Linked DNA regions of Homo sapiens: all the other regions are reported to be linked to region 1. The links are microRNA targets in miRTarBase. Many come from high-throughput screens and were not tested one by one. Region 1 holds a microRNA gene; each other region holds the end of a gene's coding sequence.
The links. Region 1 holds the annotated microRNA hsa-miR-92b-3p (UAUUGCACUCGUCCCGGCCUCC, at 2,955-2,976, opposite strand). A microRNA usually pairs through its seed, bases 2 to 8, with sites in the 3' UTR of a target mRNA and lowers its output. Matches are read on the target gene's strand: a 7mer-m8 pairs with bases 2 to 8, a 7mer-A1 pairs with bases 2 to 7 and ends in A, and an 8mer does both.

Region 1 (4,000 bases):
GTTGGTGATGTGTGTGAGGATGACTTTGACAATGATGCTGTGGTCGACCCCCTGGATGTGTGTCCTGAAAGTGCAGAGGTAACGCTTACGGATTTTCGGGCCTATCAGACCGTCGTCCTGGATCCTGAGGGTGATGCTCAGATTGACCCAAACTGGGTTGTGCTCAACCAGGTAACTCGGGGCAGTGGGCTGGGCAGGTGCTATCAGACAGGGCTACTGGGACGGGGGGCCTGGGAGGGATAGCACACCTGCATCACAGCTTTTTCTTTACTATACAACCCCAGGGCATGGAAATCGTTCAGACCATGAACAGTGACCCTGGCTTGGCAGTTGGTATGTAAGGGATATGCAGTTCAATCACTTCCAAATGGAGGAATCCTATAGGGGCAGAGGGTAGGGGAGGAAACAGACAGGGAGAATGGGCAAAGTGGCGAGAGAGAAGGCAGTGGCACAAGCTGGCCACATACATAGCAGGCATCCCTTCCCAACTTTACCCCATGATGGGCCGCCAGTAGCTTTGCTGCCCCTGACCTTTATCCCACCCCCACCCCAGGATACACGGCCTTCAATGGTGTGGACTTTGAAGGCACCTTCCATGTGAACACAGTGACTGATGATGACTACGCAGGCTTTCTCTTCAGTTATCAAGACAGTGGCCGCTTCTACGTAGTCATGTGGAAGCAGACCGAGCAGACCTACTGGCAGGCTACACCCTTCCGGGCGGTTGCCCAGCCCGGGCTGCAGCTCAAGGTCCCCAGCTGCTCAGATTCCGCAACCCAGGGCCCTTTCCCAAAGCTCTCCTCTGCAGCCCCAGGGCCTCCCCCACTGCTTGACTGGGAACCCTCTTACCCAGACATCTGGCTTGGAGGCCGGCTCTCTGGGGCCCCAGGGCATTTTCATGACCGCCTTGAATCCCTTTCCCACCTGCACTTACCGACCTGTTGTCTCCCCTCACTCCAGTTCTGCAGTTGACCCACTGTCTTTGCCAATGTCTCCTAGGCAGTGACATCAGTGTCTGGCCCAGGTGAGCACCTCCGAAATGCCCTGTGGCATACTGGCCACACCCCTGATCAGGTACGACTGCTGTGGACAGACCCACGAAATGTGGGCTGGCGGGACAAGACCTCCTATCGCTGGCAGCTTCTGCACCGGCCTCAAGTTGGCTACATTCGGTAAGGAGAGGGGCTGAGCCCACCTGTGGGACTCAGGCCGGGCCTGTCCTTCCTCTTTAGCTGGGATTCACCAGTGACCTCTCCATGGGTGGGAACTGCAGCCACTTCTCTCCATCACCCTTCTCACCACGGACACAAGCACCTATGAGTGATGTTGGTGAAGTCACTCCTCCATGACCCATTTTCCCGTCTGTAAAATGAGGGCATTGGGTTAGATGCCCTTTACAGTTCTCCAGAAGCCTCCAAACCCAGGCCAATCTGTGAAGGGGCACATCACATCTGGTCCCTTAGTTGGTATGACCTGGAACCTGTCTTATCAACGTGGATAGGGATCATCTGACCTGGAAGGCATCATCATTTACAGAAGAGAAAATCAAGGCCCTGACTTCACAGGCCTCGGTTCAACACTTTGTCCACAACTTTGCATTTCTCTCCAACAAGTAGCCCTAGTTGGTGGAGATGAACAGGAAGGGAGGGGAAATGGGTCTGCTTAGAGGCTGGACTTTCCATGGCCAAGAGCCCAGAGTCCAGGAACCTGGGTTGGTTCCCCTTTAAGGTGCCTGGGGCTGTGGGGTGCCAGGACAGGGGATAAAAGGGGGTGGACTAGAGCCTGGGAAGCGGGTGACTTCACCCCCCAGCCCATTGTGCTTATTGTCATGGCAACCCAATCCTCGCTTGGAATGCGGCTGGTGCTTTGAGATGCAAAAGGAGCTGGACAAAGAGCTAGGGGCCCCAGGCCTGAGAAAAGCACCCCCCTTCCCTCTCCTTCCTGCCTCCCTTTCCCTCCCTCCCTTCTCTCTCAGGCCTGGTGAGCTCAAGGGGGGCTGGGGAAAAGCAAGGCCCCAGGCATGGTGGCACAGTGCCCACTGGCACCCTAGCACCAATGGATACTCCTATCCTGGAATCCTGGACAGGGTGAAGCTCTATGAGGGACCCCAGCTTGTGGCGGATTCTGGGGTGATCATTGACACATCCATGCGAGGGGGGCGTCTTGGTGTATTCTGCTTCTCCCAAGAAAACATAATTTGGTCCAATCTCCAGTATCGATGCAATGGTGAGGTGGCTGATTGAGATCAACCTAATCCTTCATGCCTTGTGGGAGAGCCACATCCTCTGACCTTACTTATTTCCCCTTCTTCAGACACAGTGCCTGAGGACTTTGAGCCATTCCGGAGGCAGCTGCTCCAGGGAAGGGTGTGAGGAGGAGGCCACCAGATTCAGAATTCAGAATTTTAGACCCTTTGGCCTTGGGGTCCATCCTGGAGACCCTGAGGTCTAAGCTACAGCCCCTCAGCCAACCACAGACCCTTCTCTGGCTCCCAAAAGGAGTTCAGTCCCAGAGGGGTGGTCACCCCACCCTTCAGGGGATGAGAAGTTTTCAAGGGGTATTACTCAGGCACTAACCCCAGGAAAGATGACAGCACATTGCCATAAAGTTTTGGTTGTTTTCTAAGCCAGTGCAACTGCTTATTTTAGGGATTTTCCGGGATAGGGTGGGGAAGTGGAAGGAATCGGCGAGTAGAAGAGAAAGCCTGGGAGGGTGGAAGTTAGGGATCTAGGGGAAGTTTGGCTGATTTGGGGATGCGGGTGGGGGAGGTGCTGGATGGAGTTAAGTGAAGGATAGGGTGCCTGAGGGAGGATGCCCGAAGTCCTCCCAGACCCACTTACTCACGGTGGCAGCGGCGACACTCCAGTCTATCAAAGATCCGCCGGGATGGAGAGCCAGGAGGGCGGGGGCTGCCCCGCTAGGGGTAGCGGGGAGGCCGGGGGGCCGGGGGGGCCGGAGGCCGGGACGAGTGCAATATTGGCGGGGGAAAAAACAACACTGCACCGCGTCCCGTCCCTCCCGCCCGCCCGGGGCCCGGGATCCCGCTCCCCACCGCCTGAAGCCGGCCCGACCCGGGAACCCGGGGCGCGCTGGGGAGTTGGGTTCACCTTGGAGGCCAGAGAGACTTGGCGCCCGGAAGGCAAAGGGAATGGCAAGGGGGAGGGGGGAGGGAGAACGGGAGTTTGCGGAGTCCCAGAAGGCCGCTTTCCGACGCCCGGGCGTTGCGCGCGCTTGCTCTTTAAGTACTCAGACTGCGCGGCGCGGAGCCGTCGCCATGGTGACGCGTGTCCCAGCAACCGAACTGAATGGCTGTTGCTTGGCAATGCCGGGAGTTGAGGTTTGGGGCCGCCCACCTAGCTACTCGTGTTTTCTCCGGCCTGCGAGTTGGGGGGCTCCCCGCCTCCCCGGCCCGCGCTCCCGGGCGCGCTGACGTCAGATGTCCCCACCCCGCCCAGCGCCTGCCCCAGGGTCTCGCCGCACACAAAGCTGCGCCTCGGGCGCCGCGCGGCGCGCGGGCGAGAGCTGTGGTCTCTCGCCTGCTGATCTGATGCGCTCCAATCCCGTGCCTCGCCGAAGTGTTTTTAAAGTGTTCTTTCCAACCTGTGTCTTTGGGGCTGAGAACTGTTTTCTGAATACAGGCGGAACTGCTTCCGTCGGCCTAGAGCGCAGCCTGCGACTGCGGGACCCAAGTTCCACGTGCTGCCGCGGCCTGGGATAGCTTCCTCCCCTCGTGCACTGCTGCCGCACACACCTCTTGGCTGTCGCGCATTACGCACCTCACGTGTGCTTTTGCCCCCCGCTACGTGCCTACCTGTCCCCAATACCACTCTGCTCCCCAAAGGATAGTTCTGTGTCCGTAAATCCCATTCTGTCACCCCACCTACTCTCTGCCCCCCCCTTTTTTGTTTTGAGACGGAGTCTTGCTCTGTCGCCCAGGCTGGAGTGCAATGGCGCGATCTCGGCTCACTGCAACCTCCGCCTCCCGGGTTCAAGCGATTCT
Region 2 (4,679 bases), not on the chromosome of region 1:
AAAAACCATACAGAATAACATGGAGGGAAGTTTCTAGGAAGGCAGATGCAGAGTTGGGATAACAGTTGAGATAACAGTTATCTCATGAGGAAGCAGTCATGAGAAGCAGGCTTTGGAAATTCCAATTCCTCTCTCAACAAATCTCCCTACTACAGTGTGTCTCCCAAGTGGCTATTAGAATTGCTGGTGTTTTAAAACCTAGGTTTTATTATTATGTAGGTATGGCAAAGTCAACAGCTCAGGAGACAACTGCCACTGAAAAGATAGTTTGTTATACTCACAGATCCCAAAACAGGGGTACATCAACCCATAGGGGGCTACATGGGGAAGCATCAGGGCCAGTGAGGAGGCAGAGGAGCAGGGGAAAATGTGGACAAGAGCTTTTATTGTGGTTTCCATGGGACAAAACAGGTGAGCCTGGGTAAGATTTAGAATTGGCTAGTTTGAATAATTTCATTGGCTCTGAGGCATAAGGGCTGACTCTAGTCGTCTGGTACCTGGCCCTAGGGTGATAAGGGCAAGTGGATGGTGGCCCCATAAAGTGGAGTGTGAAAGCCCCATAGAGGAGGTGGTTGGGGCATGCATCTGGACTGGTTGGTTTGCATACGAAAGGTATATTTAGCACTGGAAGGCAAGTAGCTTGTTTGCTGTTTCTAGGAATTTTAGCTTACCCTGGGAGGGGCAGTCTCTCCAGGGTCAGCAAGGCCCCAAGATGGCAAAACATCAGATAATGAAAGGATTGGTGAGGACAGCTGTTTGGGGAGGGAAACTATTCAAAAGCTTTGTGGCTTGAGTCCTATCCTCTAGAGCTTAGAATGCGATGGGTCTGGGATGGATCCTTGGAATTGGTATTTTTAAAAGCTCCACTGGTGTTTCTAATGTGCCGCCAGGATTGCAAGCCACAGCTAGCATGCGTGTCACTCATACATTCATATGTGTGTCCTGTCTCATTGAGGATTGTGTCCTTTGCATAGTATACCAAGTTTGCAACAAATTGTGCATTCCTAAGAACTGTTTAATCAAATTAGTTTTTAAATAGAGTTGCCTTATCTTTCATTTTAGGCCTCCGACCAGGGAGACCTTCCATCCTCCTCCACCTGTTCCACCCAGAGGACGCTGATTCCACCTCCTAAAACCTGCCTACTTCAGGACTTTAAGACTCACAGTCTTCAGCCTGTTAATGATGTCTTCATGTTGAGTTTTATAGCATGACTGTTGACCTTAAGATCCATTCTCATTGCTGATAATGCTGCAGCCCTGCTGGTTTGGGCTTGCCTCGAAGATTTTATTAAGGCACGAAGAAGTGAAAAACTAAGGGCTTCATTCACCATCACCAAGTATATCGAACCATATACTTGTTTGCCAAAAGGATGAAGACTTAATCGAAATACTTACCTCTAATTTGCCATATCAGAAGCCTAAAAAGAATGATCATAAATGTACTTCACCAGTGATTTTACTGAAATGCACTTATATTAGTCTTTATGTATTTGCTAGTTCAGCCTGATTTCTAGAAGAGGTTATAGTGTGAGACTTGTAGTATTCAAGTAAGATAAGTGACCTAATTTTAAAATAATTCTTCTACTTTTCTGTATATTCAGCAGGGTATTTAAGTGCTAGGGCTGGTCACACACAACCAACTGAAAAAGACTAGAGGGATTAGTACAAACTCCTCTTATACAGAAGGCAAATCTGAGGTTCCACAGAAGTCTGGAACCAAGACTATTCAGTTGGTTAAATAAAGAGGTTAGTCTAGACTGGGCCTGCTCATTCTAGGTCACCACATTTTCCATCTCCAAATAGCCAGGCCCTCTCTCCCTCAAGAAATGCCCAGATGTAGAAATTCATCAGTGCCTATTGGTCTTCCAGAATTTTCCATCTTCCGTATCTCCCAGGCATGAGACTACCAAGTTTGTTTGTTTTCTTTCCAATTTGGGAATTTATACTTCAGTATGGTTTCAACGCAGTTATGTTTCCAGAGAACATCTAGAAGTGGCTGGAAACCAGAAGCTGGGGATTCCAGGGACCCCACTTAGTGCTCTATTTCCTTTATAGGTTTTATTTCTGGTCATAGAGAGAGAAGGACCTTTGACTTTTTCTTCGTTGAGGCTTCTGAGGAGGAAAAACAAACCTAAAATAGAAATACAGTCAGCCTTTCAAATCCATGGGTTCTGTGTCCGTGGATTCAACCAACCTTGGATCAAAAATATTTGAAAAAAAATCTACAAAGTTTCAAAAAGCAAAACTTGAATTTGCTGCATGCCAAGAAGTATGTTGAATTCATGTAAATGAAGTGATGTGTAGGCATTGTATTAGATATTATAAGAAATCTAGAAATGATTTAAAGCATACAGGAGGATGTGCATAGGTTATATGCAAATACTATGCTATTTTATATATGGGACTTGAGCATTTGTGGATTTTGATACTGGGGGATCCTGGAACCAATCCCCCATGGATACCAAAGTACGACTGTAGTTATCTATTTTTTACATACTTATTATTACCACCATGCTCAGTAAGTCCATTTTTGCATGGAATATGGAGCCTTAAAACATGTCATGAATTTGGAGTCCCTGGCACATAAATCTACCTTCAAATCAGAGGTCCTTAATGATGCCTAAACATACAGTAAAATTAGAATCAGAAATACTTCTTTAAAAAATATTCAAAATGTGTTTGTTTCCCATGGGATTATTCTCTATCCCACACGAATGTAAAAAAATCCACATTAATGATCCATTTAAGTATAGTTTTATTGGGTCCTTTTCTAATGATTAAAGGTTCTTTCTCAATTTCATTCCTCAGTCCTGCAAGTAAGGACTCATACTGAAGAGTACTGAAACAAGGACTTCTTGTCAGAAACAGCTTCTGGAATCTTGGGTTTTGTTTTTGTTTTTTGACAAAATACACTATTGGCCATGTCCATCACGAGAGTGTTTGTAGTAATTAATTACCTTGTACAGGACCTGGCACTTAGTAGCATTCTTCAAATGTTCCCTCAGTGATCCTTTTACTCTCCTTGTCACTTATTTGGGAGAAATAGGGGCACGTGAGATAAGAAGAAGAATAATTTTGATGTTGGTATGCTTGCCCTGTTACTTATAGACAGTCTTTGTCATAGGCAAACTTGAATTTGATTTAAAATAGGGCTGGGAAAAATATTCAATAACTGTAAGCCCCCTTTTGGATGCCAAACTTAGAATTTTGTACATTCTCTGATGAACAAGCATTTAGATCGTAACATGGTAAAGCCTATTACCAGCCAATGTTGTTAGCATCTTTGTATGCACATCACTGTTTGTGCAATATATGAATATTTTGTTGCATTGTATTCTTATATAAAAATAAGTAGAAAACATAAAATTGAAATTGCTGATGAGAAGCCTTGTCTCGTGAATGTGATACACTTGAGACACGGATGGAACTGATCAGGAGTGCCAAGTCAAAAGCAGCAGATCTTAAGCCCTCACTGGTTGTTCCTTTAACATCCAAAATGGTTGGTTATATGTAAAAGAAGAAAATGAAATAATCTGGATGAAACACTGGGACTGTGTTATCAAAGAATGTCTGTAGTGATGAGGTGAAAATTTTCATTTTCCAGAAACAGAACTGCTCATTTATAACATAAATATATTCAACTTCCACATACTCAACACATGTGTATACATTTTTAGGAGTACATTATGTAACAAAACCATGGATTTCCAATACAATGAGAAGCAGAAATGACACTGCAAGCTAGGGTCCAAAGAAACCATTAAAAAATTTTCTACATGATGCTTAGGCAGACAGCTCTGCTGCCACCATCCTTGCCCAAGATTTTACAAGCTGGCTCCATAGAAAGTGAAGCTGTTGGGTATATTCACCACCATTGCCTTTGCCCCTAAGGTAAATTGGCCTCCAATTCCTAGGCCAGCACTTTTATTTCATCTTATATTAAAACCTAGGAGCAGATAATCCAACTAAGCAACAAAGTATGAAGACTGAGAGACTATTTTTTTTTTTTTTTTTTTGAGACAAGAGTTTTGCTCTTGTCACCCAGGCTGGAGTGCAGTGGTGCCATCTTGGCTTACTGCAATTTCCACCTCTTGGGTTCCAGTGATTCTCCCGCCTCAGCCTCCCGAGTGGCTGGGATTATAGGCACCTGCCACCACGCCTAGCTAATTTTTGTATTTTTAGTAGAGACGGGGTTTCACCATGTTGCCCAGGTTGGTCTCAAACTCCTGACCTCAAGTGATCCGCCCGTCTCGGCATCCCAAAGTGGTGGCATTACAGGCGTGAGCCCCCGTGCCCAGCTGAAGACTGAGAGACTATGAACAAGAGGTTGGTGTTGTAATCTAATAATTTAACTGGACATATTTAATGATGTGAATAATCTCTAATGCTCTGCCTTAGTTACACAAAGTGGTAAAATATAGATGACTTCTACGAATATTTTTACAAGTCAAGCTAAGTTACACATCCCCTTTTAGCTTTGTTGTTACAAAAAAAAAAAAGGTTCTAGTCATTGCCATATCACTAGGATTTTTAGATTCCTCTCCCAAATGCCCCAGGAAGTAAGTTGGTTTTCTGTGTTCCTCCTTCAAAGAATAGTGTGTGGTTTTGCAGCTGGTTGGTGGAGGAAGCATCAGTAACAGATTTATTTCTGAGAAAGACAAGTGGTTAATTTGGAAAAT
Region 3 (4,679 bases), not on the chromosome of region 1:
ACCCTCATAAATATCTGTTTAATGCAGAAGAAGGCAATAAAAGAGCAATTCAATAACGAAAGATACACAGTAACCAAATAGCAAAATGGAAAATGCAAACCTAACAAAATTGTAGTAAATTTTAATGCACCTAAAAACTCCAATCAAAGCTTCTCTGATAAAAAAAAAAAAAGCAACATCCAGCACTATACTGTCTTCCAGAGACTCACTTCAAATTAAAAGATACAAATAGGTTAAAAGGAAAAAAACAGAAAGACATGCCATGCAAACAGTAATCATAAGAGAGCTGCAGTGGCTGTAGTAATTATAGACACAATGGACTTTTAAAACAAGAAATATAGTAGATACAAAGAGGGATATTTTAAAATAATAAAGGGCCAATTCATCTGAAAGGCATAACAGATATAAAGGTATATATACCTAACAACAAAGCTTCAAAATACATGAAGCAAGAACTGACAGAATTGAAAGAAAAAAGTTTAACAATTACAGCCAGAGATTACAATATCTCACTCTTAATAACCAGTTGAACAAATAGGAATAAAATCAGCAAGGCTATAGCAGACTTGAACAATGCTATCAACCAACTTGAACTGACATTTTTGAATACTCCATCCAAAAAGAGCAGAATATACATTCTTTTCAGGTGCATGTGAAACATTCCAGGATAGGCCATATGCCAGGCCATAAAACAAGTCTCAAGAAATTTAAAAGGATGGAAATCATTCAAAGTATATTATCTGAAAACAAGTAAATTAAAAATAAATAAGAAAGAAACTTTGAAAATCTGCAATTCTTAGAAATGAAGTAACATACTTCTAAATAATCTGTGGGTCAAAAGAAAAATCGCAAGGGAAGTTTGAAAATATTTTGAACTAAATGAAAACAACAATACAACATATCAAAACATATGAGGTGCAACTTAAACAGTGCTTAGAGAGAAATTCAGAGCTTTATACATCTATATCAATAGAGAACAGTTTCATATCAATAATCTAAACTTTCACTTTAAGAATCGATGAAGGGCCAGGCGTGGTGGCTCATGCCTGTAATCCCAGCACTTTGGGAGGCGGAGGTGGGCGGATCACTTGAGGTCAGGAGTTCAAGAACAGCCTTGCCAATATGGTGAAACGATGTCTCTACTAAAAATACAAAAATTAGCTGGGCATGGCGGCACACGCCTGTAGTCCCAGCTACTCGGGAGGCTGAGGCAGGAGAATTGCTTGAACCCGGGAGACGGAGGTTGCAATGAGCCAAGATCGCGCCACTTCACTCCAGCCTGGCGACAGAGCAAGTCTCCATCTCAAAAATAAATAAATTTTAAAAAAAAGAACAAAGAACAGTTAATTAGACATAAAGCAAACAGAAGGAAGAGGGAAAAATCAATGAAATTGGCAATAGAAAAACAAGAGAAAAGAGAAGAACCCAAAAGTTCTTTGGGGGAAAACAAATCAACTAATCTGATAAACCTTTAGATAGACTAAGAAAAAAATGAGATGACACAGAATACCAAAATCAGGAATGAAAGGGGGACATCATTATCAAGCCTACTGAAATGAAAGGATTATGAGAATACTATGGCTAACTGTGTCAACAAATTAGACAATTTAGATAAAATAGCCAAATTCCTCAAAAACCAAAAACTACCAAAACTGACTAAAGAAAAAATGGAAATTATGAATAGCTCTATAACAAGAAAATACATTACTTAAAATCCACACTTCTGCACCACCCCCACCACCAGCCCAGGCTAGATGCCTTCACCTAGTAAACTCCATCCAATATATAAAGAAGAAGTAATACCAATGCTACACCAATTCTTTCAGAAAACACAGGCAAGGAAACACTTTCCAACTCACCCTATGGGACTGGTATTACCCTTTTACCAAAGCAAGACAGAGAGCATGGGAAAACAAGAGACCAATATCTCTCAAGAACATACACATGAAAATCTTTAACAAAGTATAAAATAAAATAAAAATCCAGCAACATTAAAAAAAGGGCTAAATATCATGACAAAGTGAGATTTATGTGATCATGATATCTACAGGGCTCCTGCCTCCCTTTTGTTCTGCCATGACCTTTCAAACCAATGTACACCACTAGTCATAGTTTGGCTGTGTAGTCCCTTCATTTGCACACTAATAAGTGGATACCTTCATATTTATCATAATAGAATTAGGTTACCTTGTCATACACCCTATACCACACCCTATCTCCAACCAATTGGATATAGGATGTATGACATAAAGTAACTTAATCCTATTGAGATTATGAGTATCAAAAAAGATTAAGGATACTCTAAAAGGAGCAGAAAGCAAGAGAACTTCCAATTTCAACCTTAATGTTGAGAGTTTAAATAACTGACATGGATTTTGAACCAAGTGGAAAAGGTAGGTGAGCAACGAGCCTAGATTCTAAGTTTACTAAAAACAAGGGCTTAAAACGATCAAGCACCAACCAGATCCATAGGGAGCATAAACTTGGCTGTTTTAGAGTTTTTTTCTAGAGTGAGAGATGACAGCCTAACTGTTGGAGAAGGAGCATTGTATCTTCAGGAATACAAGTGAGACTTTGACAAGATGGTTTGTTCCTTACTATAGCTGTATGTGAATTCAAGCACTGAAGTCCAGGACCAATTTTTAGACTTATTTATCCCTGGTCAAGAGTTAAGGTGACAGAGCTTTCCAAGCCCAAAAAGTTTTCCTTCTCGGTTCTTGCTTTTAGAGATGGTTATCAGGAGGAGGAGGATGCATCTTGCCGTCTCCCCATCACCACCTAAGTTATCTGGCTCTGGGTGGAAAAATACACTAGATTAACCCCCAAATACAATCCATAATATAGTAGGTGTGGGAGATGTGAGAGAAAGCTATAGTTAACTGTTTTCGGAAGCACTTGCATACAGCTAAATGTTCATACCCATCGCTAGGGATCTGAAAAAGAATTCACCTAAAAACAATGATATTTAGGTAGTCATTCATTTCTGCATGTATTCTTCAGTTTAGAATTATAACCTTTAACCTAGAGCATTAATTAGCCAGTTCTGCACTATAAATGAATGTAAAAATCTAATCGTTTTACATTTTTTGCTACATGACAAAACTTATCTCAATTTTTCAAAAGGTCGTATTTCAGATGAAAAAACAAATGTGAAGCCATAAAAGAGACAAAGTTTTTGGATGTCACAGATGATCTGAAATAATGCAAGTAAGAACTAAAAAAATTCAGACTAATATTTAAATAATAAAACCAGGACATAGCTATGTATTTTGTAGTAAACCCTGGAAAACCTCTAACTGAAAAAAAGATCAAAATTTTGAGTAGATATTGCTAGGAAAAGTCTATGTAGATTAAGTTCATAGCCTCATTAAACATGACTAATTTCAAAAACTAAATCTGACTAACACATACAAATAATCAAAATTTATGTTTTTTTCTGGGTGAATTTCAAACATGATGCCAATATGACATTTCTGTATTCTGAACCACAAAATAATTCATAACAATTCTACAGACCATATGCAAGTTTATTTAAATAAGTTAACACTGCAGAGTGAGTCAATTTATAAGTATAAAAATAGATGGTTTAGAAACCAAAAATAAGCACCACACAAAAGCAGATTATACATACACCATCAGGCCTTTGGAATATTAAGGCAACATAAATATCTCAAGCAATTTTAGAAGAATGCTTTACTTATATAACAGATGTTATTAAAACATCTCAAAAGAGGCAGGGCTCACAATTTTTTTCAGTATGAGGTCTTCCCTTCCATTTTTGTTAATATATTAATGATTCTTCTTAAATACTGTACCATAATTAGTCTAGATTAACAAATGGGCTATCAAAGCCACTATCTTGTTGGCTAGATAGCGGAACAATTAATTTTCTTGAAGGCTGCTGACACACTGAAGATGGTAATGTACTGCTCAGTTTTTTGAAATCTGACTTTAATCTATCAGCCTTATGACGAGATGGGTGTCCACAATTCACACTGATCTTTCCTGGCTCCAAATACGTGGTTTCTTCTGACAGGTATGGAGTTTGATAACGCTGACATTTCATTGTTTGACAAATCATATTACTTTCCTCTGTATCTGAAAGATAACCGGATGGTGAAAACTGTTTGGATTTAACAGATTCACTTGGTATTTCCAAAGTTCCTTGTGGCCTACCATGTACAAATGATGCTTCACGACTGTCAAAGGATAAGGTTGCACTGCTGGAAGGCCAGCCCAAGCAGTCACTAAGGTCCCCTCCATCTTTTACTGGAGGTTCCTGAACATCCAAACCTTGACTTTTCTCAGATGCAGCATTTTCACTTTCCATTAGTGGATTGCATTTATATACTTTTAAACCAAGTCTTTCATTAGAATCGCGAAAGGTTATATGCATGCATCCTGATTCAGAAGGACCAGGGGTACATCTAGGTGAGGGTTTATTTCCTAAGGTTCCAAGAAAGGGGTATGCAGCTGAATGCGGAAGTGATTCAGAACCATTATCACTGAGTAGGTCTTTCTTCTTGTGCAAACCAAAGCCTCCTTCACCTTCACAAGGAACAAACTCAGGAGAAACATTCCTTGGCAAACTGTTTAGGTGCTTGCAACTACCATCCCCAAACTGGAATTCCAAATGTGTCTCTTTGGATCCCACATGCTTTATGCTCTGATGCTCTGAG
Region 4 (4,679 bases), not on the chromosome of region 1:
TGCTCTTCTGTAGGACAACAAAGTGAATGGGGTAACCTGCTGTACCCGGATGCTGGGCTGTACATACCTCTACCCTTGGATCCTCCCCAAGCCCCACATATCTTCCACTCCGCTGACCATTCAAGATGAGTTGCTGATTCTGGGAAACAAAGCATTGTGGGAACACTTGTCCTACACAGAAGCTGTCAATGCTGTACGTCACGTACAAGACCCATTAGCAGCTGCTAAGAAGCTGTGCACATTAGCGCAGAGCTATGGCTGTCAGGACAATGTAGGGGCGATGGTAGTTTATTTGAATATTGGTGAGGAAGGCTGCACTTGTGAAATGAATGGGCTCACCCTCCCAGGTCCTGTGGGATTTGCTTCAACCACCACTATCAAGGATGCCCCTAAGCCAGCCACTCCATCCTCTAGCAGTGGGATTGCCTCTGAGTTCAGCAGTGAGATGTCCACCTCAGAGGTGAGCAGTGAAGTGGGGTCCACTGCTTCTGATGAGCATAATGCTGGGGGCCTGGACACTGCCTTGCTTCCGAGGCCAGAGCGGCGCTGCAGCCTCCACCCAACACCCACCTCTGGGCTGTTTCAGCGCCAGCCTTCTTCTGCTACCTTCTCCAGTAACCAGTCTGACAACGGCCTGGACAGTGATGATGACCAGCCCGTTGAGGGGGTCATAACCAATGGCAGCAAGGTAGAGGTGGAAGTAGACATCCACTGCTGCAGGGGGAGGGATCTGGAGAACTCACCCCCTCTCATAGAGAGTTCTCCTACCCTGTGTTCTGAGGAACATGCTAGAGGGTCGTGTTTTGGGATCCGAAGACAGAACAGTGTGAATAGTGGCATGCTCCTGCCAATGAGCAAGGACAGGATGGAGTTACAGAAGTCTCCCTCCACCTCCTGCCTCTATGGGAAGAAACTCTCCAATGGCTCTATTGTGCCCCTAGAGGACAGCCTGAACCTCATTGAAGTGGCCACAGAAGTGCCCAAGAGGAAAACTGGCTATTTTGCTGCCCCCACTCAGATGGAACCAGAGGACCAGTTTGTTGTGCCTCATGACCTGGAAGAAGAAGTGAAGGAACAAATGAAACAGCACCAGGACAGCCGGCTCGAGCCTGAGCCCCATGAAGAGGATCGGACCGAGCCCCCGGAGGAGTTCGACACAGCACTATGACTGCCCCACTGGGCACAGTGTGGGAGGAGGCTGTGCAGGGTTGGGGTAGGGACTTGCTAGAGGCATTCTGCCTCTACATTTCTTTTTGTTTGTTCGTTTTTTTTTTGTTTGTTTGTTTTGAGACGGAGTCTTGCTCAGTCGCTCAGGCTGGAGTGCAATGGTGGGGTCTCGGGTCACTGCAGCCTCTGTCCCTGGGTTCAAGCCATTCTCCTGTCTCAGCCTCCCGAGTAGCTGGGATTACAGGCACCTGCCATTATGCCCGGCTAAGTTTTATTTTTTTTTTTTAGAGACGGGGTTTCACCATGTTGGCCAGGCTGGTGTTGAACTCTTGACCTCAGGTGATCCACCCTCCTCTGCCTCCCAAAGTGCTGTGATTACAGGCCTCAGCCACCATGCCCAGCCCTGCGTCTACATTTCTAAACCATAGCTGTGTGGGGTTGAACTCGGAGCCAAAAAGTGTGAGAGCCATCAGGGGCTGGCTCTGGATAAACTGGTAGCCACTATCAGTGTTAAGTTTCACATTTAACCTGCATTGGAATTCCCAGGGGTACTGGGAAGAAAGCAGCTGTTCTGTATCAGTCCTACCACCTGCCATTAACCCTTTCTCTCCTAGGATCATTTTGAGAATTTGCCTGCCTGGGCAGGAAAGGGACTATTTCTGTGGAGGAAAAAAGTGAAGATTGATTCTCTTTACTAGTTGCTGCTGATGGATCTCTGTGACAGAGAAATCACCTTATCTCAGACTAATGGGGTGTGATGTGACTAGTCACATGGCTTTTCATTCTTCTCTACGAGAATACAGCCTATCAAAATGATGTCTGTTGGAAATGTAGAACCAATCAAACAGATAATTTATGTATGTAATGTAATGAGAGCACTTTTCATTGACTGTGAACTTTTTATTTTTGAATCTGCACTCGAGCCAATCTTCTTAGAGGCAGCCCGGCACCTTCATCCATAGGCAGAGAGAGAACTGGGTGTTGGAGACTTATTCGAGGGTATAGGAAGGGCCCTGTGAAGTTGATTTAACTTTTGGATGTCAGACTGTGAAAGCTCCTGAGAAACTTGGGGTAATAGGATCTTCTTTTGGGGATGAAAATGGGGAAGGCGTGAGGACCTAGACTACTTCTCCCTAGATCAGAAAAAGAGAATTACCCCTTGACAAATATGATACCTGCTAGGTATTTCCCAGGGAAATTTAGGGATTGGCGTCTTTCCCTAGCATGTGGAGGAATTGGCAGACAGCTTCCTAAGGGCGGGGAGCGGGGGCCCAAGGCTGACACTGCTTGCATCCACGTGACCTTAAGTTATGGCAGATGACTCTGAAACGGACTGAGGCCAATGAGAACAGATGGATGGAGCACTCAGGTTAGACTTGTTCCTTCTCCTATGCTGGAGGAGAGGGATGGTTCTCTAGAATGTTGGAGGTGAGTTGAGAGCTCGCCTCTTGAATGTTGAACAGTGTACTCTTCTGAAAACTGCATATTCACTTTATGTGGTTTCAGAATACTGGGCTCAATACTAACATAAGAAAGACACTTCATTGAGAAATTCTTAAGCTTACAGAAAACCTATACTCTTTGCACATTCCACATAACCCTAGCAAAATGCAGTTTCTTCATACTTCTGTCACTTTTTCCATTGGAAGATTTGCTTAGGAAAATTAATTCCTATTTATTCCCACAAAATGTTGGCATTGCTTGATTTTACCCAATGGGGAATGTGCTTTGAATTTTTGGAACACTTTTACAATTAAAAATAAAGTAGGGCCATTTTTAATTTGTTTCATCAGAAACTATGTTAAAGAGAGGGTTAAATATAAATATATTTTCGTGTGTATTTTTGGGAAGATTTTTGTTCAAAGCAATAGTCAAAATCAGATGACCTGTCCATAATAATTATGTGTCTTCATCTTCTCAGAGGCCCCATGCTCATATGCACGTGTCATTGGGATACACTCTTGGGGGATTTGGTACACTCTAATGGATGTCTAATGTTCAACCCCTCGAGAATCTGAACTTGAGTCCCCAGATTGTCAAACTACTGGTCAGCTATTGAGAATTTTAGAACTCAGGTCTTTGATTTGAAGTAGGGAACATAGTGGCTCACACAGAGTTTAGGTGCTGTTAGAAAGATGGGAACAAGAGTGTTTTGCCACCTTATTTTTATATGGGAAATTTTTTTTAATGAAGAAAAAATGAAAATGAAATAACAGGATGATAGTGATGAGTGATGTAAAACATCTTACTTAGATGGCAGAACCTTCGGGTTGTAGAATAGTGATGTCTAAAAATTAAAGTTATTTTGGGAATACACCACTTTAATAGTATAGTCTTATAAAAATTATTCATTATGGTGAACCCTTCTTGTCTGCTATTCGTTTCCCAACCTACTTATTGGAACCACCTCAAAACCCAGTTCTGAAATGACCTTACCAAAAGTAAATGTATTTATTTTTTAGTCAGCAGAACTCTGTAATTCCAAATGTTGTTCTGTGTGGTAGAATTTTTTTTCAGGAACCATTAGGTTGTATTGAAAATCTTTGTTATAGGCGATACCAAAACTGATTATTCTTTTTTGCAGTCTGCTTTAATTCATGTCCTTCTGCAGTTGCTCTGTATTAAAACAGGGTAAAAAGGCCATAGCCCATTATGAAAAATATAATACAAAACTCTTTGACCTATGAGGTAACTTACAGACATTGTGTTTTCTAAACAGGCTGTCAGTGAAAGCCCGTATCTGTCTCCAGGTGAATGTAATTTACTTCCGAGTACTTTACCCAGAGGATGTGTTCCCCAGGTGGGCAGAGTACAGTTGATCTCTAGCACAGACAGAGATTCTGGCCTCTGCATATTCTCAGGTCTCTGTGTGTACCTCCCATTGAGTAGAGAAGCTTAAGATAATTTCTGAGAGAAGAACACTGCTGATTGTGGGAGCAGTTTAGGAGTCCATGGAAGAAAGAAAAATACATGTGTCTTGGCAGCCATGGTGTATTTTTGTCCAAATGGATTGGAAGGATATTTGAATATTTGAATGTTGGTATGACATAAAGCTGCAGTGCACTATAGAGTCAAGTCATTGAATTACCACTCCTGATACAGGGCTTTATTGTACTACTGTGAAGTGTATGTGTGCAATACATTGGTGAGTTCATTTACTGGTGTACGGAAGAGCCAGCAGGAGCAGCGTGGTCATTGCTGGGTGCTATTACAGTTGCTTGTAGTGAGTGCTGTTTTCCAGGAGATGGAGCCAGTTGGGTGTGGCAGATCTACTGAATATCAAATGATGCTCTTCTTCCCATGTAGACCTTCAGCAAAAGCCGGTACTTGGAAGCCACAGGCTCACCTTCTCTATCTATCCAATAATTATTAATGAAGAGACCTCCATAAGGGAGCAGCTGGCTGTTATCGATAAATGTACCAATTATTAAATAATTAGTCTCCAAGCCATTCAGTGATGTCTTCAGCATCACTATAGGACTGTCTAGTGTCACTTTTTACTTCCTTCTGGG
Region 5 (4,679 bases), not on the chromosome of region 1:
CTCAGGTACAATTTATTCATAGAAAATAACTTTCTGTTGTGAAATAGCAAAATGCAGTGTTCCCAATCCAAGTGTAAGTTTAATTTTTAGAGTAGACTGGGTGCAGTGGCTCACACCTGTAATCCCAGCACTTTGGGGAGGTGGAGGTGGGTGGATCACCTGAGGTCATTAGTTGGAGACCAGCCTGACCAACATGGTGAAACCCTGTCTCTACTAAATACCAAAAAAAAAAAAAAAAAAAAATTAGTGGGGCATAGTGGCGCATGCCTATAATCCCAGCTACTTGGGAGGCTGAGGCAGGAGAATTGCTTGATCTGGGAGGTGGAGGTTGCAGTGAGCTGAGTTTGCGCCATTGCACTCCAGCCTAGGTAACAGAGTGAAACTCTGTCTCAAAAAATATATATATAATATATATATATATTTTTTACGGTAGATTTTAAACACCAAAATTATGAAAAGAGACTGTAGCTAACCTTATTACATGCCAGTTCTTCTAATTTATTTAAGAATTATTTTAACTTTTTTTTTTTCATTCTATTTCAGGCTGGTACACCCCTCCAAAGGAAGATGGCTAAATGTGTTGACTGTTGTATGTTTGGACTAATGTTGCTTTAAAGAAAATCTTTCTAACATGCAGACAAAAGCTTTGAGTGCCCCTATTACAGCAGTACCGAAGATGTTAGTTAATAGATATTTTAGTGGATAATCTGTCATCTGACATCCAGTATAAGTTACAGCCTTTGCATTTTGCTCATTTTAGATATCTTGGACTGAGCAGTGGGGCCTTTACTGTATTTTTCCTGATAAATACACATACTGGCCACTCCTTATCTCTTTTTCTTGAAAAGTGAACTTTTTAAAGCAGCCAAGTCAACATCAGGCTACTGAAGTTGAGGCTTTAGGGTAACTTTCCTATATTGAGCCCATGGGTTACAAGGATTTGCAATATATTGTTCCATTTACAGCCAATACAGGTTTAATCGATGTTCAATATTGGTTTAGGAAATTTAAGGCCTTCTAAATCATAATAGCTCTTTCATGTCTAAAACCATTTTATGATATTGCCAAAATGTGATAGGAAACCTACTCATTAAATTGTTAAACTTTTTAATGACTATGTGAAGATATGAATTGTTTCCTGAAGATAATACTCTTAATTGAGTTGTATTGTACTTCTTAGGCAAAGCAGTGTAAAACTGTATCAATTAAGGCTTGTGAGTAGTGATTTCCACTGGGGCATCAGAGTCTTGGCTGGGCTGAATCTGCTGCTTGTTGGTTCAGTGTTTCTTATGAACAAGAGCCACAGTACAGAGCTTCAAGTTATTTAAAATACTAAGTCATCTTACGTTTCCATTTTATTAACGGGATGTTGCAATCGTTTGTAAACTAATAAACTTATAAAGTGATTGGCACAAAGACTCCTTGAGCAAAAGCTGTGCAGTTAAGTACAAAAAGATACTTAATTTGGAGACTCTTACAGTAATTTTTGCCATGTCAAAACAATGGCTTTTACATTGAAAGATTAATAGAAACTCTACATATGTTAATTTTTTTATAGAACCTGACTCAAATCAAGGTACTCTCCATTTTATTGCCTTACCTGAATCAGTCCTTTTTGGTTGGTAATAGATTTTTTTATACACCCACGTTTGATTTAAAAGTAAATTCTAGTTCTTAAGCACTTTTAACAAATCCAGAAGCACATTTTTCTGCACAAACAAGTTACAAAGTTCAAAAGTGTTTCTTGTGCATTAGCTTTGAGATTCAGTTTTTAACTTTGTAAACCACATCTGAGAGACTTGTCATTTCTACATTGTGTGTGTTTAATTTCTTTTGATTCCATTTTGGTTAAGAGAGCAGTAAATAGATTTTCTGGTATTCTTGTTCACTTGATTACATTTGTATAAAGTTCTGATTGCCAGTTGCTCAGATAACAAGTGACAAGGCAGAATTCTTTAAATCAGTAAAGTTCCTTAAGCCTAAGGCTAAATCTTGAATACATTGTTGAATTCTTTAATATCCTGATGGCAAGCAGACTGATAGCTGCACATTTGGCATGCTTTGTTTAATGGATTTTATTTTTAATTGCAGATTTATTTGGCAATGTACAGTAAATTTTGTAAACTTGCATCAAGTTTATGAATAAAGAACCATTTAAAAATTTTGTTTGTGCTGATCATGGCAAGCAAAAAAAAGATTACTTTCTCATTTTTCCCTCATAAGAAAACTCTGCTTGATGTGTTTGTAGGCTTTATTGAGTTTCTGGAATAAGATATTTAAGGAGGGAAGTGGTGAGGGGAGGCTTGGAAGACAGGCAGATTTAACAAGAGAAAGTGAAAGTGTGAAAGAACCTGGAAATAGTCTGTACAATAGTCACCTTTTCCTCCGCCTTTTTCCTCTTCCATTCTCATTATAAATTCAAGTGCTACTTTTTCCTTATGGCTATCCTTAGTTCCCCCAGTGAAAATAATCTGCTCCTTCCTTAGCATACCCATGGCCTCCTTGCACACAATTGACAGATTATTTCACATACAAGAAGTCCAGAGGTAGGACAACTCCAGGTACTGTACATCTGGGCTTTGCTCTGCTTCCTTGAGATTTTTCTATGTTGGTTTCATCTTTTGGTTGCATGTTATGTGCAGCCCCCTTACTTGATCCAGAGGTAGATAAATGGCCCTGTCTTCTAGTGTCTCCTTAGGAGGTGAGGAAATCTCTAAAAGCACCATCCCATCAAGCACACTGCCTCTTGCCTTTCCTTGGCTACATCAGGGACCTGTGCCCACCCCTAAACCAATGGTGGTGAAAAGAATGAAACCATCGTGATTAGTTTGCACAAATGGTTCTCAAAGCCTTATTTGGGGAACACTGGAGACCCCTGAGACCATTTCAAGAGGTTTTAAAAGACTATTTTCATAATATTAAAACATTTGCCATTTTCACTCATTCTTCCATGTGTACAATGGAATTTTCCAGAGGCTACATGATGTGATTTTGCAACAGATTGAATTCAGAAGCAAATATGAGAATCTATTTGTCTTCTATTAAGACAAATTAAATATTTGCAAAAATGTAGTGATGCCGTCACTGGTAAACTGTCCTCTTTCCCTACTTTATATCAGCCACAAAGAAAGAACGCCCACTTTGAAAGGCAGTCAGGTTTCATTCAGTAGCCAGAGAATGGAGAAGGGGAGCTCATACTCTAAAGGCACCTTCTCCCAGAGGGATGGGAGGCTGGGGAGTTTAAAGAGTTAGCTGAGGGGCGGGGGAGGTATGAACGGCATGCACAGACTGGAGTTCCAGACAAGCAGGCATAGTCCCTGAACATGCTGCTTCATACATCCATGTTCGTAAGATGCCAGTGAGCTTTCTTTAGGGAGAGGATTTTAGCATTATGTTAATTATCTAAAGGTAACTGGAGGGCGCCTGTTTATCTTCCTCTGGTATTCCGCAAGGGGTCAGGAAGCTCTGGTGACATCTGGGCCATCTGGCTTCCTTAAGCAGCTGCGCCTATAAATAGACTATGGGAAAAAACTGGCTGGGCTTGGTGGCTCATACCTGTAATCTCAACGCTTTGGGAGGCGGAGGCAGAGGGATGTCTTGAGGCCAGGAGTTTGAGACCAGCCTGGGCAACATAGACCCTGGGTCTACCAAAAAAAAGAAAAAAACCACAGCTACTCAGGAGGCTTATGCCACTGACAATGTCATACTATCCACCAGTGGGGGAAGGAGGATTTGGGAAATAATTGTTTTCCATAAAAATATTTCGTTAATGTATAACATCGGTTTTTTAAAAAGAGTTAAGCATTAAGATGTTCTGATTTAATTTTTAATATGGTAAATATTGATAGTCATAACACACATAAACTATTGGTCGTGTCAATATTTTAGGGTGTAAAGGGTCCTGAGGCCATAATGAGAACTGCTAATTTAGACCAAGTTTCTGCCCAAGATCTGGCGATCAAATCAGGGCTCCCTTAGGAAGGAATTGGCGGGAGGAATGGATGTTAGGTGGGGACAAACCTGTGTCTGCTGTGCTTCCATTTCTTGGTGGTTCTCAGTTTGAGCATGCATCAGAATCGTCATAAAGTGTGTTAAAACAGATTGCTGGGCCTCACCCCCAGTGTCTGATTCAGGAGGTCTGGGATAAGGACCGGGAATGTGCTAAAACTTAGTAGTTTCCAGGTGAATCTGATGTCCCTGGCGGGGAACTGGTGCACAGCTTGGGGCGTGCTTCACAGCAATCATCTCACTCAGCTACCTTAGAATGGCAGGTGCTATTTATGCCATTTTACTCATTCGAAACTTTAAACCTGAAGATTACAACGAGTTAACTAAGTTTACAAGGAATAAAGGCAGTGATTTTCACACACTAAGACAATTTTTTAAAAGCAAACGTCCGTTTATAAATCGAGCTTATGCTATTTAAACAGGCATTGGGACTACGAAGAGCAATAAGTACTACCTAGTCCCTGCAAGGAATTTGTGAATTAGAGAAAGATGTAAACTCAGAAATATGGCGGTGCCAGGGCAGTGAGAGGCACAGGCACAGAAGAAGAATTTATTTTCACTGCAGGAGGCCTCCTAGAAAGTTGCCAGGAGCGGTGGCTTATGTCTGTAATTCCAGCACCTTGGGAGGCCCAGGCGGGAGTATCGCTTGAGCCCTGGAGTTTCAGACCAGC
Region 6 (4,679 bases), not on the chromosome of region 1:
GGGTTCTCAGACTCTCAGGGTTTCCACTGAAAGGTCCATTCCAATGGTTAAACCAGCCTACTTATCTCAGAGGATGGATAATGTGGCGCTGCGAAGTGGGGAGGAAGCTCCTCTGCCATCATTAACTCGTTTCATGACCAGAAGCCATGGGCACAGGTGCTCGGCTCTTCCAGGCAGGCTTCCCTTGTAGCTACAGCTACTCTTCCCTCAGGCGAGCAGATAAGGACTGCAGGACGGCATGGAAGAGACAGGAACACGCTCCCCTGGGCACATCGAAGAGTCCCGGACAGGCAAACAAGCCACATGGGACAAGGGTCACAGCAGCAGCCTAGGGGCCAGTCCTCGACCTAAACTTGTTCTTTCACCTACAGACAAAAGCTTAATCAAGTGCAATCAATGCCTTGGGATCTTTGCAGCAATCTGGGGGGCATGTGTCACAGAACTCTGGATGTAAACAGATACACAAACATCTTCAGACTGGATACATTTTTCCAATACTTGTTGCGGGTCGGTTTTAAAGCATGTACCCTGGAGAGTGAAGGTGCAGCAGATAGGTATACTGATTTGAGTCACTCCACACCAGGCAGCTTCCTTCTCCAGGTGGGGCAGAGCCCCCTGGGGGAACAACTCTCCAAGAGTATCCGCAGGAGGTGGGCGGCACCCCATCTCACCAAGGTCCTGGCCGGGTCTTCGCTCTGCCCAAACCCTCCTCCAGCCTGTGCAGGCCTCCTCCCACCTCTTAGTGCTTTCAGCGAGAAAAGGTGAGTCTCATTACGCAGAACTTTTGTTTGCTCTTCGGTTCTTTCCTTCTTCAAGTGGTATGCTCTACTATTTGGTAGAAATTCACATTGGCTTGTCACAGCACACTTCAGTTCTGCTGGCTACATGAAACGCATACCCAGTTTTCTATTCTTAACAGTGAGTCTGAGCCTCTGTGGTCTCAGAGATCCTTTCATCCCCATGACCATTTTATACATCCTCCCCTCAACAACTGCTAGAGTTTTATCTTTCCCAACAAATATACCAGAAACTATGTGTGCTGTTGCAAATGGGGACGGCCCAAGAGTCTGGAGTTTTGTTCCCTGCTGCCCTGCTTTTACCCAGTAATGTGCGGCATGGTGGGTGAATTTTTCTAATTGTCCTGGGTCGTAACAGTTCACCTTCTCAGAACAGTTTGGACTGTTTCCCCAACCATGTCACATAAGCTTTGGCTCACAAAGTAGCTCACCTCTCGCCTCTCCACTCTTCAAGCTTAGTAAGAAGATTCCGCAGCTTAGTCCCAAAGGTCAGGCAGTTTTCTCTCCTGAAAAACTCTGTGGACACACCTAGAGAGGTCACTGTCTGCCCACCTGCCTTAGTAATGCTGGTCCTAAAACTCATCTCCAAGGACATCTTTCACAACTTCTCCATCTAAGAAATGACCTTGACCTTCCTACCTTTGGGTTTGTTTTTTTTCTATTCATGACCACGTGTTTCTTCCAATCCCATAATAACAATTTTTATAGACTGTATAGCAGAGCCTTGTCAACGGCTTTTTGAAAATCCATCAAAGTTCTATCAGATGCAGATCTGTGTGTTTATTCACCTGCAGGGACTCCGGAGCTCATTTGCTCTGCGTCTTCCTATCCCCCTCCCCGCTAAAACTGTAGTGCACCTTTTTAAAGGAATTCCATGCTGCACAGCAGCAGACTTCGGGCTCCTCGGGGCCTGTGCTGACTCTGGTTAGTGTCAGGTGGGGATCCGAGTAGGTTATGCACATTGGCCAAACAGCTGAGACAGGTATGCTCACCCATAGTGATTTCTGGATGGAGGCCATCCAATCCCAATATTTATGAATACCAAGCTGCTTAATTGGTTTCAAGGTAGACTCTGCCCTTAACGCTTATTGTACTAATACCTTTGCCCAGGACTGAATTGCCTCTCGAGAGTAATACTGTCACCTTTCCATCCTTAGAACTACCCACTGCAGCATGATCAAGTGACCTGTTGACTCTTGGCAGGTTTATCATGTCCAAAACCAAACCAAACCTAACTACTGACTCTGGAGTTCTTTGCAACATGAAAGCCTACATTTTTAGGTTGGGCACCTTCAACATGACTCCAGGTCTCATTCTCCCAACCGTAGTTGAATAAAACCCACAGCCTCCTAGAACTCAAAGGCACCTGAGCTTGGAGCCACATTTGTTATAAAGCTGAGTAAAAGGACACCCAGGCCGCATGGATGAGCTGAGGACCCTGTGCAGACACGTCCATGGAGCTTCTAGCACAGGCCTCTCTCCATGCTGCCTCCTTTCTTCCCTTTATTTTTATAAGCTGTCCGTTTCTAAAATGTTTTTTCTTTTGCACTTGGGCCTCTTTTCCTTTCCAATTCAGGAAAAGGCTTTAAGTGCCTGGTATCTTGTTCTATGGCACAGATCTCTTGGGCATGAGGAGAAGGAAAGCACTTAAAACCAGTTTCAGGATTCACTGATGGGATTTCCTTCCCTTTCTAAGTTTGTTCACGTTTTCCTTTTCTAAAACGGAACCAGGAAACTAGACTGTATTGGGTTTTAAGCTTTCCTTTGGACAAAGCTGAATTAAATGTGTGGTGTCACTAATACTCCACATCTGACAATTCAGTACCAACTGCCAGCCTGTGCTAGGCTGAGTAGTTGGGACCACGCCCTGCCACAGGCTGGGAATCAGTCACACCCAGAAAGCCTGCCTGAACAGGTTTTCTGCTGGTATAGCTAGGGTGACAGAGTCTCTAACTGTCTAGTCCCCTTTAGTTAGGGATGCTAGAATATTTATTGCCATGCTAAAAAAAAAAAAAAAAAAAAAAGACTTTCATTCTCTCTGCTCGAGGCCTCCGTGGGCACTAAGATTTCGTACCGTGACAGTTTTTTACCTCTTTATGACTGAATCCTTCTATTCTTTTTAATGAAAGATAGAAACAGGAAAGCCAAGTTCACTGGCTCCTTCCTACCAAATCCCCCTGCCTCAGCTGGAACACCAGACCACAGTTCTTAGGCTTCTAGCGTTTCTTTCAGGAGCACTTGTTGAGTTTGGATTCTCTGCCACTGCCAATTTTCTGACTAGTGTCATCTCTCGGGAGCACGTGGGGCAGCCTAGTGGGTATACACAGCCAGCCTTTGCCAGCATTCTCCCGGACTCTGTTTAGACTGCTCTGCCATTACTAACATGGAGAGTGTGATGACATCAGCTCCCTGGAGAGTCAGCCCCTGAAAGTTGGAATTGGTATGAAAAAGCTGCCCCTCTTCTGGTAGCCTAGAACCTGCTACAGTGAGGCAACCCTAATGGCCTGGGAAATGATGGTCACATACACTTTGCAGAAACTCTTTGGACCTTCAGAGCCTTTCTGCTGCAGTGTCACATATAAGCTGACATGAACAAGAGGCGTATGCACACAAAGGGAGGCCAGTAGACAGAAGGGTTTAACAAAAGGCCCAGCAAGCTGAGATGGCCTAAAGGTGCAGTTCCTCATGCTCAAGTGCTTCTCGGGTAACCTCTCCCAGTGACTGCTCCTTCCCTCCTATGGAGAACAGGTTTTACCACCTACACACCAGCCTGTGGTCACAATAGTACCAGCATTCAAGCAAACACCAAATAAATAAGAGGTAGTGGGGGAAGAAGAGACAAGAGCTTTCCCAAAGGGTGTGTGGTCTCCACAGTGCCAGCTCCAGATTTCTGAAACAGGCTTCTGTTTACACAGAACTTTCTAGGAAGCTTATCAGAACTGCCAAAAGAATGCAAGTATGAATAAACCGTTGTTCTTCTAGACCTGCTGCTTTAGATGCTGAACTTCAGAATCAAAAAAGCAGTCGGAAAGTCTCATGTAAACGCTTTCATGTAAAGACAACCAGCTTTGCAGGCTATGTCCTCCTGGAAGGGACAAAACCAGACTTACCTGCAATGCAACAAACTACCTGGTCTAATTGAGAGCCAACCCAGTTATCTGAACTTCGGGAAAGCAGAAAGTGGTGTGTTAGACTCAAAGATTAAATTTGGCCTCATATTGCACAGGTTCAAAGGACGCAACCATTTGGGGGGGAAAGGAAGAAAGTAAAGCTACTGAGGAACACCAACTGGCCCTTGGATTAGAACACACTGCGAGGTAAATGAGAGGGGGTTAGGGCGGGTGGAGGGGAAGGTCAAGAGGCATTTCAATGCCAGATCCAAAAACCGTTCTGCATTCAGTCAGCTGTCCAAAGGACCTCCGTCCCATTTCCACACATGAACTTGCACTCAGACCCTGGAAACAGGAAAGCTTTGAAACGTGCATTCACACCTCCTGTTCTGTGCCAACAATATGCAAGTTAACACTGATTGACCATCATTCCTTAGCTGTGTTCATGATGAGTCTCATTGTAGTCCATGATATGTAGCTGTCCAACACTGTCCGGGGTCGGGGGAGACGGGTGAGGGCCATCTAGGTTCAGGGGAATCTTGGCTTCCACACCCAAGTCTTTGCCCAGTTCTGTCTTTAGGCTCTCAGAAAGGCTACTGGTCATGCCGTCCTCATCACACTGGCTCTCGCTCTTATTACGAAATAACTCTCGAGCCTTCATACCCAGGAAGCTTTTTGAACTGGGAAGTGAGCCCACAGTGGTGGGGATGCTGGCAGACGCTTCTCCCATAGTCGTCTCCCACCGACTGCTGAATGGGCCTGCCCTCTGGTG
Region 7 (4,679 bases), not on the chromosome of region 1:
CTGGCTCTTGGCATGTTGATTATCTTTAAAAAAAAAAAGAAAAAAAACCCTTAGATCTGCTCAACTATCTTGTAAATTGCTTGGTGTAAAAACAATGTTTGTAGCTCCTGGTCTTTCCTGCACGGCATTTAGCATATAATGAGTGCTTAATAAGTAGGTGCTTCCCACAGAGGACCTGAGCTTTGCCAAAAAAGGTTTCTACAGTTCAGTTAAACTTTCTTGTTAATATTTTTCCTGTCTTTCTTTGAACCCATTTGAGACAAATTTTTATGTTTCTCCTTTTCTGTAAGGTTCAAGATTATCTAAGAAGATTTGAAAGTATACCAGATATGCTTGAATTGGATCACCTCACAGTTTCAGGAGATGTGACATTTGGAAAAAATGTTTCATTAAAGGTATGTTGTTACAATGAAAATTATATTTCTTACAGCTTACAATATAGGTCTCATTTTCTAGTCATAAATTTACATTTACTTTAAGGAATACTTGTTAGTCTTAGTGCCACCTTAATTACTAGTGTAATTATTTTACTGAAATGAGAATCTTTAAAATAGGATCACTATTAGCATTAGCTTACTAAAGATGATTGAGTAAAAGCAGAAAAAAAATGACAATTTGTACTGAATATAACCTATTAAAGGAATGTTATCACTGTAAGAATATTCATTTACATTATTGTAGTACTCAGGTACTCTTCAGTGTCATTCCAGCCTCACGTAAGAAATAGGAGGGAAACGGGGGTATAAAAGTATTAAAGCTCACCAAAGATACAATAGCTTTTTCCAAATCATGTAATTTTTTAAAAAATCTCCTAACTAGATTTCATATACTCCTCCCATTAAAGCTACTTACTTAAATGAAGATCTTGAAAAAACAAATACATATATTGAATTTTATTGCTGAGACTGCCTAAAGACTTAAGACATGAAAAATCTTATCAGTAAACTGTTATAAAAACAACAACAAAAGCCCTATATGTAAATGTAAACCAAGCACCTTTTAATTTCTCTATGAAGGTTAGATAATGCTGGTGGCCTTGCAAGTAGGCCTCCAAAAGGGGCTGGCCATGCTGTGGCACCGGGTCCACTTCCCGCTCTTAGTTCTACCTCTAACAAGGAGACAGAGAATCTAGAACTACTGCCAGGATTGTTACAGAAGGACACATTACAATTTTCCTTAACTGTTATTTGTTTTTCATGTTTAATATTGTTTATAAAAAAAGTTACTTCACTGTAAAAAAAAAAAAGTTGTACATAAACTTGATCACTGTAAGATAATCAAATTGCATTTCAGTTGCAAGTACACTCTTTTGTTTTCCCTGTCACTTAGGGAACGGTTATCATCATTGCAAATCATGGTGACAGAATTGATATCCCACCTGGAGCAGTATTAGAGAACAAGATTGTGTCTGGAAACCTTCGCATCTTGGACCACTGAAATGAAAAATACTGTGGACACTTAAATAATGGGCTAGTTTCTTACAATGAAATGTTCTCTAGGATTCTAAAATAGGCAGGTACTTTACTATGTTACTGTACCCTGCAGTGTTGATTTTTAAAATAGAGTTTTCTGCAGTATGCTTTTAGTCTAAGAAAAGCACAGATGGAGCAATACTTTCCTTCTTTGAAGAGAATCCCAAAAGTTAGTTCATCTTAAAGTGCAATATTGTTTAATCTTAAAACTGGGCAACTTTGGAAGAACTTTTAACAGAAGCCTCAATGATGATCACTTTGAATTGCTTGTGATTTCAAAAATAAAGCAGTGAAGCAATACTTGTGTACACTGGTACTTTATAATGCTAACTATAAACTGGTTTATTGTTGTTAGACAGTTACTATATTAGTTGGAAGATTTGCCCTTTAAGTACACACTGGCTAGTTACCTAGCCAGTGTGTACTTAATGAGTCCAGTTTTTGGCATTTCTAAGAATCTTAATCATACCATTATTTCCACAGGAATTAAACTGAAGGTATTTTCTTTAGTACCTACCTTTCATCTAGTTCTAAAACTGGGATGCCTGCCATGCTTTCCACAAACTCTCCATTTATTGAAACAAAGTGGCATTTATTTTCCCAGCTGACGGGGGTGGGCAAAGGGAAGGCATTTCTTCACATCCTTGTACTCTTCTATAGTGAGGTAGGGGGTATAGCTTCATAAAAAGTTCCCTTTCCCTGAAGCTTCATTTCCTGAAGCTTGTTTATTATCACTGAAAAAATGATCATTAATAATCTTTCCATTCAGGTCTGCTGGTAGTTCAATTTATGCCTTTTCTTTAAATTCATCCATACTTGTTTTGAGTAGGCTGCTTGTTTAAAGTTCACAATATACCACTTAAAAAAAAGTTGCCTTTTAAAGTCTGTTAATTTTTTACAGCTTTATTTTAGACAGATAGTTTAAGAACCAAAGACATACCTCTGTAATGATAAAGGAAAGAAAACAAGCTTTCCTTTTAAGAAACCAAAGAGCACAAAATAAGACTGTTTCATTATACATAATCACCACAGGATATTAGGCACTCTGACAGGGTTAGGCAAGATTCTTGGTGTGAGGTGAAGCACAGGCACTTTATTTGTACAGTGCTGCTGATTCTAATTTTGAAGGTAGGTATTATAAAAGTCTTTACTTGTCACCTTATTTCTGGCCCCAACACAGCAGCCTATAGTTTTAAAAGTTCTGTTTCTCCCTGGTCTTTGTTCGTATACACATCGAAAGTAACTTAAAAACAAGGATCCAAGGGGGCCATACTTCATATGTTATCTAAATGTTAATATGAGAACTCAAAAGTAGGCAGATTATATGAATACATATTCTTACCTCTGCTACAAATAAAAACACCCCAAACCCTTCATCATACTTTTATAAAAATACAGATATTAAACTGTAGCCTTTTATATACCATTTCTGAAAAGTATTTAGTTGCATAAATAGATGCCAGGATCTTTTTTTTTAAGTATTAATTACTTAAAAAAAGGCTTAAGTCTTTCAGGTATTTAGAGAGCTCTGGAAGGCTTTACCCAGTTGACATACGGTGGTAGTAGAAATATTAAATATGCAACACACAAAGCCTGCAACTTGACATTGGTCACTGAAACAAAAATTGAATTCCTAAATCCAAGCAATCAAAAGATGTTTATTTTTTATAGAAAGATCTGTAAAAAAATAATAATTTTTCAAACAGCTTTACTTTCATAGAGAAAACTTTCTACAGAAGTTGACTAAGATTTTAAATTGTACCATCATTAAATAAGGTGGGACACCATATGAATTTCATTGCACTGGAAGAAATGCAAAGCATTTTTTAATATAAAGTATACAGAGCATTCTAGTCAACTACAGCTGTGTTACAGCTATGTGTTCTTTTGGATTTGGTCCAAAGAAACCTGAGTCTGTTTCCAGAGAGAATGAAAAATGTTATAGACACCTGATCAGTTACTCCTCACTGTAGGATGCACAAAAATGACATTCCTTGTAGATCCCACTGAATCCAGTTTCCCAACACTTGATACTTTCCTTTTTCCCTTCCCCCACCCCAGTTCACTTTGGGTTTCAGGTTCAATTCTCGAATCACAGGCATCCAGATTTTCTTCATAACAAACACATCCCATGGTCAGATGAACTACCCAGTTTTCCAGGATGACATCACCTCTTCTGCTCCCAAATTTCGGCCATATTTAGGTCCAAATCTTTAAGGCCTTTTAAGGCTTGAAGATTTCCAGTGTAAAAAGCTACATCTGCTGTGACCAACCTAAATAATGGAGAGAAAATTATTTTTTAAATCTCAAACTTTCTATTCAGATAATTAAAGTAACAGTGCTCACCGAGTCAGAGTCCTATTATCTAAAATTCAGATTTCTTAGTGCCCAAGTGTCCAAATACTTTACTTAGCAGGATTCCTGCTATGAATAAGTAGGCCATTTAATGCTGTACTTCAATAATAAATATTTGGAAAATGAATAAACCAATGGCTGTTAGAGTCAGTTTCATGATAAATTCAGCCCAAGAAAATCAGATTTATCTTGAAACAGCATGAATTAATATACAGAGAAAATAACAGGCTAAACTAAAATGTTTTTGATTGGTTAGCACTAGAGTATGGGAGTGCTGACTAAAATAGTAAACTCAAGGGAAAAGCAGGCTAGGTTTCTAAGTGTCATCTAAGGCGTTAAATACAGACTAGTATTCATGTATATAAGCGATACTGGATATTTCTTTAAAAACCCAAGAGAAAAATAGGAAAGAACATAAGAAGTCACAGATGAAAACACCTGAATAACCAATAAACTGAAAAAATGGTAAACGTCAGGAAAATGCAAATCAAAACAAGGTACTACTATCCCCCATCAGACTAGCAACAATTAGGAAATCTAACAGCAAATGTTGAAAAGATGTGGGAAACAAATTCTCACAAACTACTCCACTAATGTGGGAGTTGGTACAGCCACTGTCAATACCTAACAATATGAAAAGTGTATTAGCTCCAATTCACTTATAGGTATATGCCCTGAAGAAATGGTCACACCATTAGACATGTATAAAGATCTTCAGTATGGCATGGTTATAATGGAAAAAAGTAATGACTTAGCAATTTATCACTAGGGGAAATGTCTAATTTATCTATGGCTGATTCATGGCCAGGAGCAGTGGCTCACACCTGTAATCCCAGCACTTGGGGAGGCTGA

Region 2: miRTarBase lists PIK3AP1 as a target of hsa-miR-92b-3p. Seed matches in the 3' UTR shown: 8mer at 3,304-3,311.
Region 3: miRTarBase lists CEP152 as a target of hsa-miR-92b-3p. The part of its 3' UTR that is shown has no 7-base or 8-base seed match.
Region 4: miRTarBase lists PHLPP2 as a target of hsa-miR-92b-3p. Seed matches in the 3' UTR shown: 7mer-m8 at 1,321-1,327 and 8mer at 4,300-4,307.
Region 5: the mRNA of UBE2Q2 is a reported target of hsa-miR-92b-3p. Seed matches in the 3' UTR shown: 7mer-A1 at 942-948.
Region 6: the mRNA of TSC1 is a reported target of hsa-miR-92b-3p. Seed matches in the 3' UTR shown: 8mer at 4,014-4,021.
Region 7: miRTarBase lists VPS54 as a target of hsa-miR-92b-3p. Seed matches in the 3' UTR shown: 7mer-m8 at 3,270-3,276.

What each region holds. Positions count from the first base shown.
Region 1 is chr1:155,194,213-155,198,212 of GRCh38, reverse strand. MIR92B (microRNA 92b) reads right to left here and starts at 3,036; the gene lies at 2,941-3,036. It overlaps THBS3 (thrombospondin 3), which reads left to right. Exons shown (of 23, transcript NM_007112.5): 18 at 1-171; 19 at 285-333; 20 at 554-750; 21 at 1,000-1,172; 22 at 2,087-2,226; 23 at 2,314-2,625. The coding sequence ends at 2,372. It overlaps THBS3-AS1 (THBS3 antisense RNA 1), which reads right to left and starts at 3,216. Exons shown (of 6, transcript NR_183238.1): 1 at 2,841-3,216; 2 at 1,196-1,362. RefSeq lists enhancers at 376-1,211, 1,212-2,047 and a silencer at 3,204-3,533.
Region 2 is chr10:96,592,018-96,596,696 of GRCh38, reverse strand. PIK3AP1 (phosphoinositide-3-kinase adaptor protein 1) reads left to right here. Exons shown (of 17, transcript NM_152309.3): 17 at 1,063-3,382. The coding sequence ends at 1,120. The region is part of intron 2 of LOC105378443 (a long non-coding RNA gene); the gene reads right to left. Among named protein-coding and RNA genes, the nearest start is that of TM9SF3, 7.3 kb to the right of the region's middle.
Region 3 is chr15:48,734,429-48,739,107 of GRCh38, forward strand. It overlaps CEP152 (centrosomal protein 152), which reads right to left. Exons shown (of 27, transcript NM_001194998.2): 27 at 3,510-4,679. The coding sequence ends at 3,821. Among named protein-coding and RNA genes, the nearest start is that of CEP152, 74 kb to the right of the region's middle.
Region 4 is chr16:71,645,379-71,650,057 of GRCh38, reverse strand. PHLPP2 (PH domain and leucine rich repeat protein phosphatase 2) reads left to right here. Exons shown (of 19, transcript NM_015020.3): 19 at 14-4,679. The coding sequence ends at 1,168. Among named protein-coding and RNA genes, the nearest start is that of MARVELD3, 22 kb to the right of the region's middle.
Region 5 is chr15:75,898,884-75,903,562 of GRCh38, forward strand. It overlaps UBE2Q2 (ubiquitin conjugating enzyme E2 Q2), which reads left to right. Exons shown (of 13, transcript NM_173469.4): 13 at 544-2,195. The coding sequence ends at 575. Among named protein-coding and RNA genes, the nearest start is that of FBXO22, 2.7 kb to the right of the region's middle. RefSeq lists enhancers at 4,163-4,679, 4,647-4,679.
Region 6 is chr9:132,891,895-132,896,573 of GRCh38, forward strand. It overlaps TSC1 (TSC complex subunit 1), which reads right to left. Exons shown (of 23, transcript NM_000368.5): 23 at 1-4,679. The coding sequence ends at 4,341. Among named protein-coding and RNA genes, the nearest start is that of SPACA9, 15 kb to the left of the region's middle.
Region 7 is chr2:63,889,791-63,894,469 of GRCh38, forward strand. VPS54 (VPS54 subunit of GARP complex) reads right to left here. Exons shown (of 23, transcript NM_016516.3): 23 at 2,360-3,745. The coding sequence ends at 3,640. It overlaps UGP2 (UDP-glucose pyrophosphorylase 2), which reads left to right. Exons shown (of 10, transcript NM_006759.4): 9 at 291-395; 10 at 1,330-1,770. The coding sequence ends at 1,437. Among named protein-coding and RNA genes, the nearest start is that of UGP2, 50 kb to the left of the region's middle.